Homo sapiens: one gene and its partner. The protein of the gene in region 2 interacts with the protein of the main gene of each other region in a pairwise test. Each region holds a gene or a part of one and is shown on either strand. Other genes may lie near its edges.

What was found.
Region 1: the proteins of CDS2 (region 2) and MR1 interact in binary tests that used the Homo sapiens proteins (3 or more experiments, as listed by UniProt).

Annotation. Positions count from the first base shown.
Region 1 is NC_000001.11:181,057,850-181,062,606, reverse strand, and holds the end of MR1 (major histocompatibility complex class I-related protein 1 isoform 1 precursor), read right to left. Parts: 3' UTR 669-4,757; downstream 1-668. UniProt on the Homo sapiens protein: Antigen-presenting molecule specialized in displaying microbial pyrimidine-based metabolites to alpha-beta T cell receptors (TCR) on innate-type mucosal-associated invariant T (MAIT) cells.
Region 2 is NC_000020.11:5,193,008-5,198,688, forward strand, and holds the end of CDS2 (phosphatidate cytidylyltransferase 2), read left to right. Parts: 3' UTR 1-4,880; downstream 4,881-5,681. UniProt on the Homo sapiens protein: Catalyzes the conversion of phosphatidic acid (PA) to CDP-diacylglycerol (CDP-DAG), an essential intermediate in the synthesis of phosphatidylglycerol, cardiolipin and phosphatidylinositol.

The DNA of each region.
Region 1 (4,757 bases), on a different chromosome or scaffold from region 2:
GCTTCCCATTTCATCCTGTAGCCTCCTCTCAGAAGCTGTTTCCCCCCTTCCTACTCCCTTCCCACCCCCGGGTTGTTTCCCCGGTTGTTCCCACACTCTAGCCCATTTGTGTCCTCAGAGGTCTGGCCGCTGCCACTGCACCTGCCTCAGACCCAGTGTCACCTCGCCAGGGCTTCAGCCAGCCTGACCTTCCAGCTGCCACCCAGCAGCTCAGCTTAGGGACTCAGAACCTTCTGGCCCAGACCTTCATACCCAACTCCCGCCCAGGGGCAAATGCAGAAGCCTCTGCTGGTGCAGCCAACACGGAGTGGGGGCAAGGCGGAGAGGAAAAGCAACAGCTCAGGGTGTGGTAAGAGTGCTCAGGGTGCTTCCCAGCTCAGGGCATTGGTAAGAGTGGGTGGAATTTGCATGTTAAGAACTTTCATTAACCAAATACCCAAATGGTGACAGAAAAGCAAATTCAGACTAGTTACATTTCTGGAAGGTTTCAGATATTTGGGCCCCCAAGATGGCTGAGAACTCATTTCTCAGCACCTCTTCTCATAGCCTTCGAGAAAAACAGTACCTCCCATAAGAACCTCCGAATTCTATCTTTGTCTTTAATATGTATGTGTTGGGTGGGGTGGGGGTATTGATGGAATGTTTCAGATCACTAATCTCACAGACAATGCAATGACAAGATAAAGTTTATTAGATGGAGAATGTTAATACAGCTGAAACCTTTGAAGAATTCAGACCAGTCCTCAAACCATTCATCCTGAGTACCTGGAATGTTATATGATCTTGAGTGGGATATTTCCCCTCTATGACTTCAGCTGTAAGATGACACTGTTCTTTTGTACCAGTACATGAAGACTAGCTAATTAAAATACTATACTAGTTCATTCAAAAAGTATTTACTGAGTTGCTACTACGTACAAGGCATCATGCAAACAGACTGTGCAGTATTACATAAAATTTTTAAAATAGATTTCCATAAATAAACACCATGATAGGATTATGTAACATCTTCCAGGGAATTTTAACCGTTTGGATGTACTACACAGTGGTTCTGGTTCTACCAGTCTAAATGAATTGACTTGTTTTTTTTTCCACCATCACTCCTCCCTTTCAATTCAATTCATTCATTCTGGTGTGCAGCCCATTTCTGTCTATTTTCTAATGATATGACCAGAGCCACCATGTAGGCTTGTGCCCTGCACAAGGATAGATACCCCACTGGGGAACAAACGGGACCAAAATCTACTCTGTGTTCTGCTGGCCAAGCCGGGTGACCTGGCCTGGGCTGGCGTCCTCCCAGAAGAAGGGTTCATTTTTCCAGTTTGCACACATGTGCTATTTGTGGGTTAGCTGAGGCCCTGCTTATGTCTTCAGTTGGTTCACAAACCAGAAACAGAACAAATGGCCATCATTTGATTACAAATGTAATCAAACTAGATTTACAACCAAGGCTTGCTGAGTGGCATTATGGGTTTTATCCTGTTGCATGGCAAGCCGCTCATGCACGGGCTGTGCTCAGTGTCCTTTTTCCTCAGCCATGCCAGCCATGGGGAAGCAGGAGGGGAGCTTGTTGGAGAAGGTGGCCTCAATGAGAGCCTTGGTGCATTCCCCTGAAGCCACAGTTTGGGGCTTCTCCCTCAGCAGGGGTCTCCACAGTCTGAGTGTTTTCAGAAATCTTATATCCAGGGGACCCCAAATCTTATGTCCAGGCCCCAGGGTCTGAACTCATATTTAAGTACTGAAAGGCATCAGCATCTCCCCTCTGGTTGAACTTGACCTTCTTACTGAGAACCAGCCAGGCAGGCATCAGAAGCCTCAGGCTCCAGAGGAGAAGCTGGTGGGCAAATAGGTCAGGAGCAACTGCTTTCACCATCAGGGATGAAAGTTGAAGACCAAGAACACTTCCTTGTCCTGTGGTGCAGGGGTTGGGATGGAGGGGTGAGTCTTATAAATGGAAGAGAACTAAGTGTTGTGATTTAAAGGAAGAACATTTGCCTCCTGCCCCCAAATGCTCCCAAACTCTCCAAAATTCCACAGATTCCTTTGGCTTAACTCCTTTCACAGAGGTAAGCTAAGGTAGTCAGTCTCACTGTAGTTGCGGTGAATTCATTTAATGATCTTGGTTTCCTAACTGCTAGATAATCCAGTGGAGCCAAAAAATTTTGGTGGATTGAGGGAACCTACAGAGGTTGGGTAGAGATGTGTTAGGAGTTGAATTGTTTCCTCCAAAAAATTCATGTTGAAGTTATAACCCCCAGTACCTCAGAATGTGGCCTTCTTTGGAAATAGGGTTGTTGCAGATGTAATTTGGGAAGGTGAGGTCATCCTGCAGTAGTAGAGTGGGTCCCTAATCCAGTATGACTGATGGCCTCATGAAAAAAGGAAATTTGGACACAAAGCCATGCATGCAGGGAGAACACCAAATGAAGACTAGAGTTACGCAGCCAGAAGGCAAGGAACAACCAGAAGATAGGAGGGAAGCCTGGAACAGATCCTTTCCCAGTCCCTTTAGAGGCAGCATGTTTCTGCCAACACTTCATTTTGAACTTCTGGCCTCCAGAACTGTGAAACAATAAATTTCTGTTGTTCCAAGCCACCCAGTTTTTGTGGTACTTTTAAACGACTACCCTTGGAAACCAGTACAAGGTGGAACGGGGAGACGATGGAGAACATGACATTGTGACATGTTGCATCTTTCCCAAAATGGCCACAATGATATCTCCCAACTACATGCTCTTCTTACAATGTAACTCTGACAATCTTCCTATTGAGTGTTGGGTTCTATACACCCTCTTTTTGAACCTGAGCAGGATTTTATGACTTCTTCACCAATGAGAGTATCACAAGAATGACATTTTGTGACTTCCAAGATTAGATTATATAAATGCTATGCACTTTGACTGTGATCTCTTGGGATACTCACTCTGAGGGAAGCTAGCTGCCATGTAAGCAGTGACTGCCCTGAGGCCACCATGTTGTGAGGAAGCCCAACCCACACAGAGAGATTACATGGAGAGTTCCTGAGACTACATGGAGGAGATGTAGCTGATGCCTGGCCACCACCCCTGGCTGCCCCATTTCTGTTCCAGCCACCACTTGCCTCCAACTCCATGAGAAGCCAGAACTGCTTACCCAAGCCATATCCAAATTCCTGACCCATAGAAACTATGAAAGAAAATAAAATGGGTATTGTTTTAAACCAATAGGTTTTGGGTTTTGTTACACAGTCTGTGGGGTTTGGGGCAACCAGAAGCTAGAAGGACAATGGAGAAAGGGAGGCCAGAGTGAAAAGGAGATGCAGAGATGTTACAGAGACATACAATGCTCAAAGATGGCAATTTCCAAAGAAAGAGAGGTGAAGGCAGCTCAGGCAGTGGAATCATCAACCTCTAAAAAGCACAATGTACTGAATGTCCTGAAGCTATTGGGGAAAAAAAAAAGATGAAAAGGGCAATGCAGTTAAGTGGGAAACACCTGGGCTGGGAGATGCCTGTGCTTCTTCCTAGCTCTGCTGCCCACAGCACATGGCTATGGGCAAAGCCCCCTGTCCTCCTTGGAGAACATTCTGTGAACTAATACACTGTGTGTGAGAAAATAGCAAACTCCAGAGAGCAGGTGCTAACAAGCAAGAATGTGTCCCCTTGCACCAATTCTGGGGTCATCAAGCACTCTACAGATTGTGATTTAGTTGTTCTTATGTAGATTTTCCTGCTGGAAGGTGTACTGACCAGCTGAGACAGATATCTGACCCACTTAGCAATTGTGTTTCTCACAGTAAATTAATACATTGGCACTCCACTTTATATATCCATCTGATCACTTTGTGGGGACACTAGACCTGCATATGTGAGGACAAAGACCCCAGACAGTGGTTTTCAAAATAAGGTGTGACTGCTCTGTGTGACTCTGGCAGAAAATGATCAGCTGGCCTCCCTAGTGGACAATCTGTTCCTCATAGCTACAAGTGCAAAAACATCTTCTCTCAGGCCAAAAAAAGAAGAGGAGAAACCAAGTCATTCCTCAGAAATAAGGAAAGGATCACAACTTGGAAATCATGGGAGTAAGAGGAGAGAGGAAAGGAGGACTGGCCCCTGATGGGAGAGCTCAGAAACTCTCGATGGAGTCTTGTTGGATTTTTCACCCTGCTCTTTAAACTGCTTTCTCTCCCTTAAATGTACCACATCAAAAACATCTGCCATTTAAATTTACCACATCTTGGTCTATATGCACATCAAAAACAAACAAACAAAAAAAACAAAAACAGGTAATAAATACAGTGGAGTTAAAAAAAAAAAAAAGAACAGAGTTGAACAGGTTTCTCATCTAGTGTTCTTGATCCAAAATATTCAGTAAAGAAAATTCAAAGCCAAAACATAGCTGTGGCAATAGCACAGTTATTTGTTTTTAATGTTTAGATCATGGTGTCAAATATTTCATAGGTTATGATTACTGAGCATCTGTACTCAACAACCATGAAGTAATGAAGCAATAACAAGGCTAAAACAATTAAGAAGTAATATAATCTTCAACCATCTATAGTAAAATGAAGGTTGCAGAATTTTAGGTATTACTTACTTATTTTATTTTTATTTTTTTGAGATGGAGTTTCACTCTTGTTGCCCAGGCTAGAGTGCGATGGCGCGATCTCGGCTCACCACAACCTCTGCCTCCCGGGTTCAAGCGGTTCTTCTGCCTCAGACTCCCGAGTAGCTGGGATTATAGGCATGCGCCACCATCCCCGGCTAATTTTGTATGTT
Region 2 (5,681 bases):
AGGAGGCCTGGCCTGAGCCAGGTTGGAGCTTAAATTGCTGTTGGCTCCTGCCTGGTGGAACAAGGGGGTCATAGAAACCAGGGCTGATGGGCACCCCCCAGCCCCTGGGAGCTCTGCTCATGACCGCTCACAGGGTACCGAGTCTTTGCCTTTTGTGTGTGCGCATGCTGCCCTCTTAACTGCTTTTAGTATTCAGAAAGGTTCCATTTATGTTTTACTCCTGAAAGTGAAACCCTCTTAGGCAACTTGTTTCATATTCTGGGCATTTTAGTAGCTACAGTATTTTGCATTTAAAATGTAATTACTCTTAGTATTGTACAGCCCTATAATGTATGAGAACTAGTTTCACATCCTTTGAAACTAATCTCTTTCATTGGGGAGGATACAACTTTTGACTTTACACAGGTGGACTTTGAATCCATTTTTATAGAATTTTTTTCCACTGTAACTTGACCTATATTATGCAAGAAAATCCCAAAAATATGTTTTAAGGGAGACTACACAGACCTTGTGATTTGGTCTGAGCTAGTTGCTGAGTTGACTGGAGCCTTATTTGAATGGATCTTTGAGTTGAGATCTTCACACTGTCAGTGAGCCCTTGGCTCAGCCCTTGTCACCTGTTTGTATGGGGACCATGTTTCCCAAAGCTCAGGTTCATCTCCACTATTGACAGAGTCGGGTAGTGGGAGAGTATAAGTGACTTGAGACAGAGTGTCCTTGCTCAGAAAACTGTGAAGCAGGGGTCTTGTTAGTTACAAAGCCAGTCCTAGTTGCATGTCCAAGGGGGTAGATTTTCATCACCCTACTAAATGTGGTATGTCACTGCTGAAGCCTTTTCCTGTTTTAGTAATATCTTAGGCACTATTGTCTTTTGTCTTCCAGAGTAACATATCTGGGCCCACCTTTCTTGCACACTGTGATTATGTGCTAAGAAAAGGGTGGAGTTGGGAGGACAATTTCACTTGAACAGGTTTCTGTTCTTCTGAGGTCAGGGTGGGGAGGATGTCCAGGTGACTTTTATGGACACATTGCAAGACAGTAAGCCGCGGATGGACTCTCACTTGTGCTTTGGAACACTGGACTCCAAAGAGCAGGTGGAACAAACTCTGGCCTGAAGATGATGGCTAATACTCAGGCAGAGCCCCGTATTCTTCCCTGACTTGGTCAAAACAAACTTCCTTTTCCCTTGATCACCCTGCACGCAGCTGCCCAGCTTCCAGTTTTTAAAGAGATGAACAGCTCTCACTTCCTGACTCAGTTTCTCTTGTTGGGTGGGGGCCTTGTGCCACAACCTGCATGGGGTGCTAGGGTTTAAACCAAGTGGTCACGAAGGATTCTTATCTCAGGGCTCTGCCTGGCCCACCTTCTCTTGGGCCTGGACTCTCCTTATCCACATCCCTGCAGAAGGTGGGCCCTATTCTCAGAAGAGTCCTGGCTGCTGTTGCCATCTGAATGCGCCCTTCCCTTTCAGGTTGACCAGCAGTGGCCTTACCTGGCCTCTCAGGTGGATGGAGGCTGTTCTCATCTGGGGCTGTCTCTTGATTAAGGCTGTCACCTGTTTGTATAGGGACCATGTTTCCCAACGCACTTTGAGTGCAGTTTAGGAGGTATCCTTTGGATGCTGAAGTGTTGGGATTTTGAGGACATGCGGATGATTTATGAGAATAGAGGGGCAGAGTTTGTGAAGTCTAGGGTTTTTTGTCCAGTGGGTTTCAAATTTGTTGGCTGTTTAAAGACCCTGTCTCCTCCCCCACCCTCCCCTTCCTTTTCCCATCAAATGCCTACCTACTGAGGCGCCTTCTCTTTTTATTCTTGAGCCAATGAGATATCAGTGTGTTTATTAATAAGGATTGCAATAGTATAGTGCTTAATATGTGCCAGGCATAGTGCTAAGGGTTTACATACGTTATCCCTTTTAATCCAGAAAACAGCCTTTGATTAGGTATTGTTGTCTCCATTTTATAGATGAGGAAACTGAGGCAGTATGACTGAGGCCGAGAGCAGTGGTTAAGACAGACTTTGGGATCAAATCACCCTAGGTGCGGGCAGGTTTCTAGGCTGCTCTAAGCTTCTACCTTGAAGGCAGTTGGGTCTGATAATAGTACCTTCTTCCTGGGGTGGTTGTGAGGATATAACGAGGTAATGCATGTAAGCATTTAGTACCATGCCTGGCACATAGTAAGCACTCAATAAATGGTAGTTACTTTTGTTGAGCTCAGCTGGTAGTTTGACCTCCGTTGGTGCAATGCCAGAGATGGGATTGTCAGCCACCACACTGCCACCACCCTGCACACAGTCTGGGTCCCTCCGAGAGAAGCACGCCAACCTTAACATCCCCTACAGCATCTTGGTGCTTCACACACCATTTAGGAGGCCACCCTAACGAGGCAAGAGGACATGGGGGTGTGCAGAAGTTCTGTTCTTAGTGAGAATGGCTGGCCTGAGAATCCAGCTCACCTCCTCTGCCCACAGTCTGGACTGCTTGTGGGAAGGCCATCTCCTCCTGTCTGGTGGTACCTCCACTCTGGGCAGGGAGGGCCTGTCTGTGACTCGCTCTGGACCCCACTTCCCGCTCTGGCCAAGGGCTGTCTTCTGTGCACATAGCTCAGGAGCCTGCAGCAGTTCCCTGTATGGGTGGATGTCCTCAGGGGCCAAGAAGAGAAGAATGGGGACAACAGAAACCTGCTTTGTAGGGGATTATGTAGACTAAAAGCCTAGAAGTTCTGCCCACATCCTTATGACGCAGCCAATCTGGAGCTTCATGTTTCCTTCTAAAAGTAGTAACCGGGTAGAAGTGGGTGACCCATTGAGGACACATGATGTGAGGTATTTCTGCCGGATTCTAGGTTAGCAAAGACTCAAATGGGTGACTCATGAATGAAGGGAGAACAGGCACAGGACTTAATGAAAAGAGTTTCTTGAACTTAGTTTTCTGAATGGGGGTGGGGAGTTGGGGCACGTGTGTGTAAGGGGAGGCTGCCTCACTTTGAAGGAATGGTGTTGGCTAACAGGATCCATGAAATTCCTAGGTCAGTTGAATAATAACTGAACTACTGGTTTGACTGTGGATTATTTCCTGGGTATTAGTGGGACCCAACAGCACATTGCTATTAATAGTATGGAAATAATGGTCCCTCTGTTTCATTGAATTGCTGAAGTAATGATAATGCCATGAACCAGGAGAAGATGGTTGTGGGGGTTTCTAGGAAGCAGCTGCTGTGACAGGCCAATCCCAGGCTTGCCCCCGAGCCCTCCTGTCCTTCTGGGTTTGTGTTTGCCTTGCCTGGTGCTTCCTCCCTCATTGTGTTGTTGAATAGACCTAGGCAGCCTTGTATCCATAGAAAGCCTCCACTGCTGGGCCGGGGAGGGGGTTGTGGTAAGGGCCCTCTGGAAATCAAGCAGAGAATGCCTTTGCAGTGGTCTCCCGGGCATTGGGCAGGGCCTAGCCTTTTGCAGCCCCCAGAGGACCTTGCCTGCATAAAGCACTCAGAAGGGTTAGCCACCTGGTGATTTTGTCTCTAGTGAAACTGTGTTTGCCGATAATCATCCACATAGCCACCTCTGTCCTCGCAGTTTGGATGCCTTTTTTTGACACCTGCGCTAGGTTCTTGTATGCTGGCTTTTCTTAAAGGAACAGCAGAGTAGAAAAGAGGTTGAGAATGTTTTCTAGCAGGCAGAATGTGCATACATGTTTTCATGAGTGTCCTTTGGGTGCTGTTTCTTTTAAATCCTCTGTGCACAGGGCTCTGGCCTTTAGTAAACTGTTTTTCTGTCTTACGTCATGCTGACTGGGTGCTAGGGGCTGATTACAAAGGGGAAGAGTTGAACAGACATCAGGGGCCGATGAAACCAAAGGACTAGGAGTCAGGAGAACAAGTCAGGGATTAGGAGACAGCGGTTTGGTTTATTGTTATCCAGCTGGAGGACTCCTAGGGGCAGCAGCAGGAGGAATACCAGGGCCACGGAGGGGCCAGGAGTCTCACAGTGGAGGGCAGACTCTAACAGATGCCAGCTGAACGCTCGCTGGCCCTGGATGTCATACGAGTTGGGGACCAGAAATCTGGGCTCAGAGAACCCGTCCAGGGAGATTTGAAGCCATGGGTTATCTTCTAGAGTTGATACTGATAATATATTTTAATTTTTATTGATGTTTAATACCTTCTGAAACAGGAGGGTAAGATCAGATGGGAAGCCCCTCTGTTGAAGGATCTTGGGAACCTTGGTGGTTTTTTTTTTTTTTTTGGTTTTTTTTTTTTGATCGAGCTGTGGACATCCTTCTTAATTCGATTCTGAGGATTTGTTTAACTAAAAAGTTCCCAAACACAGAAAGGGCCTCCCCACCTGCTTTGGGGAGCTGTCTGTGCTGGGAGTGCCAGGCATCCCATGGGACCCATCACTGCCAGTGTCTGTGCCTCCCAGAGGTCAGCCGTGTCTGCCCTGGCTCTGTCTCCTCTGTGACAGGGCAGAGCATTTCTGGTCAGTTTCTCCATGGTGCCTCCCACCCCTTTGTAAAGTGGATGGACATGATGGAATTCAGTTGTCTCACCCTGATAGCCTGGGTGTTGATATTCACTTTACCCGCACTCAGACACAGGCGACCTTGAAGCAGTTCTCGGTGTGTAGAGTCCACGTGACAGTCCCCACAGCCTCCCCAGATAGCTGTGTGCCTGTGCGCTACTGCTGTGCCATTTTCCCAACTTGGCGTTTCACTAAATGCAGCTGATCTCTCTCTCTGTGCACTCGTGATCCATGTTGAACAATACATGTAGGTTCTTTTTCCACGCAATGTAAGAACATGATATACTGTACGTTGGAAAGCATTTACCTTATTTATATACCTGAATGTTCCTACTACACAAATAAACATATATTAAATTCTAGATCATGTGTGGTTTTCGATGGTGGGGGTGGCGGAAGGCCAGGGGTGTGGACGTTTGGTTGCTTATGTGGAGCCAGCATTATTTCCCAGGATGCTGCTGACCACCGCTTGCTTCTAGAGACTCCCTCTGTCCTTGGCCTTGGCAACCTGCCCCCCCGGCTTTCCTCCTGCCCTTGGTTGCTCCTCCTCGGTCTTCTTTCTGGGTGTCTCTTTTCTGGGCCATCCCTTGGGTGGTGGCATTCTGCCTGAGGCTCTCTTTCGCCCACTGAATTCTCCCCTCTAGGTGTTCCCACCCCCTCCCAGGATCCTGATCACCACACTCATTTCAACACTTCCCAAGTCCATGTCTCTAGCCCAAGTGGGCCTGCATTTCCAGCTGCCTGTGAGGCCTCTCACACAGACTTTGCATGATAAAACCCAAACCTATGACCCATGTCCTGAGTCCTGTGTTCTCTAACTACCCATGTGTTCTGTCACACAAGCCAGTAACTGGAGTGATCTCATCAGTCACCCAAGCCTGCCCGTTCTGCCTTCCAAACATCCTCGGAATCATCCTTACTGCCAGCCTTCTGGGCCAGGCCCCATCTCCTGCCAGGATTTCTAAGGCAGCCTCTAGCCCTCTCCCTACAGCCTGGCCACCTCTCTAATCCATTTCTTGCATGATAGCTGGGATGAGCTCTCTGCTTGGAACCCTTTGGGTCTTGAGGTTAAAGTTCAGACTTGGTAACGAGGCTTCTGGGGCCATCTGTGAGCTGGCCAGTGCCTGACCCACGCATTCGGGCCCTGCCTTCACAGCCACAGC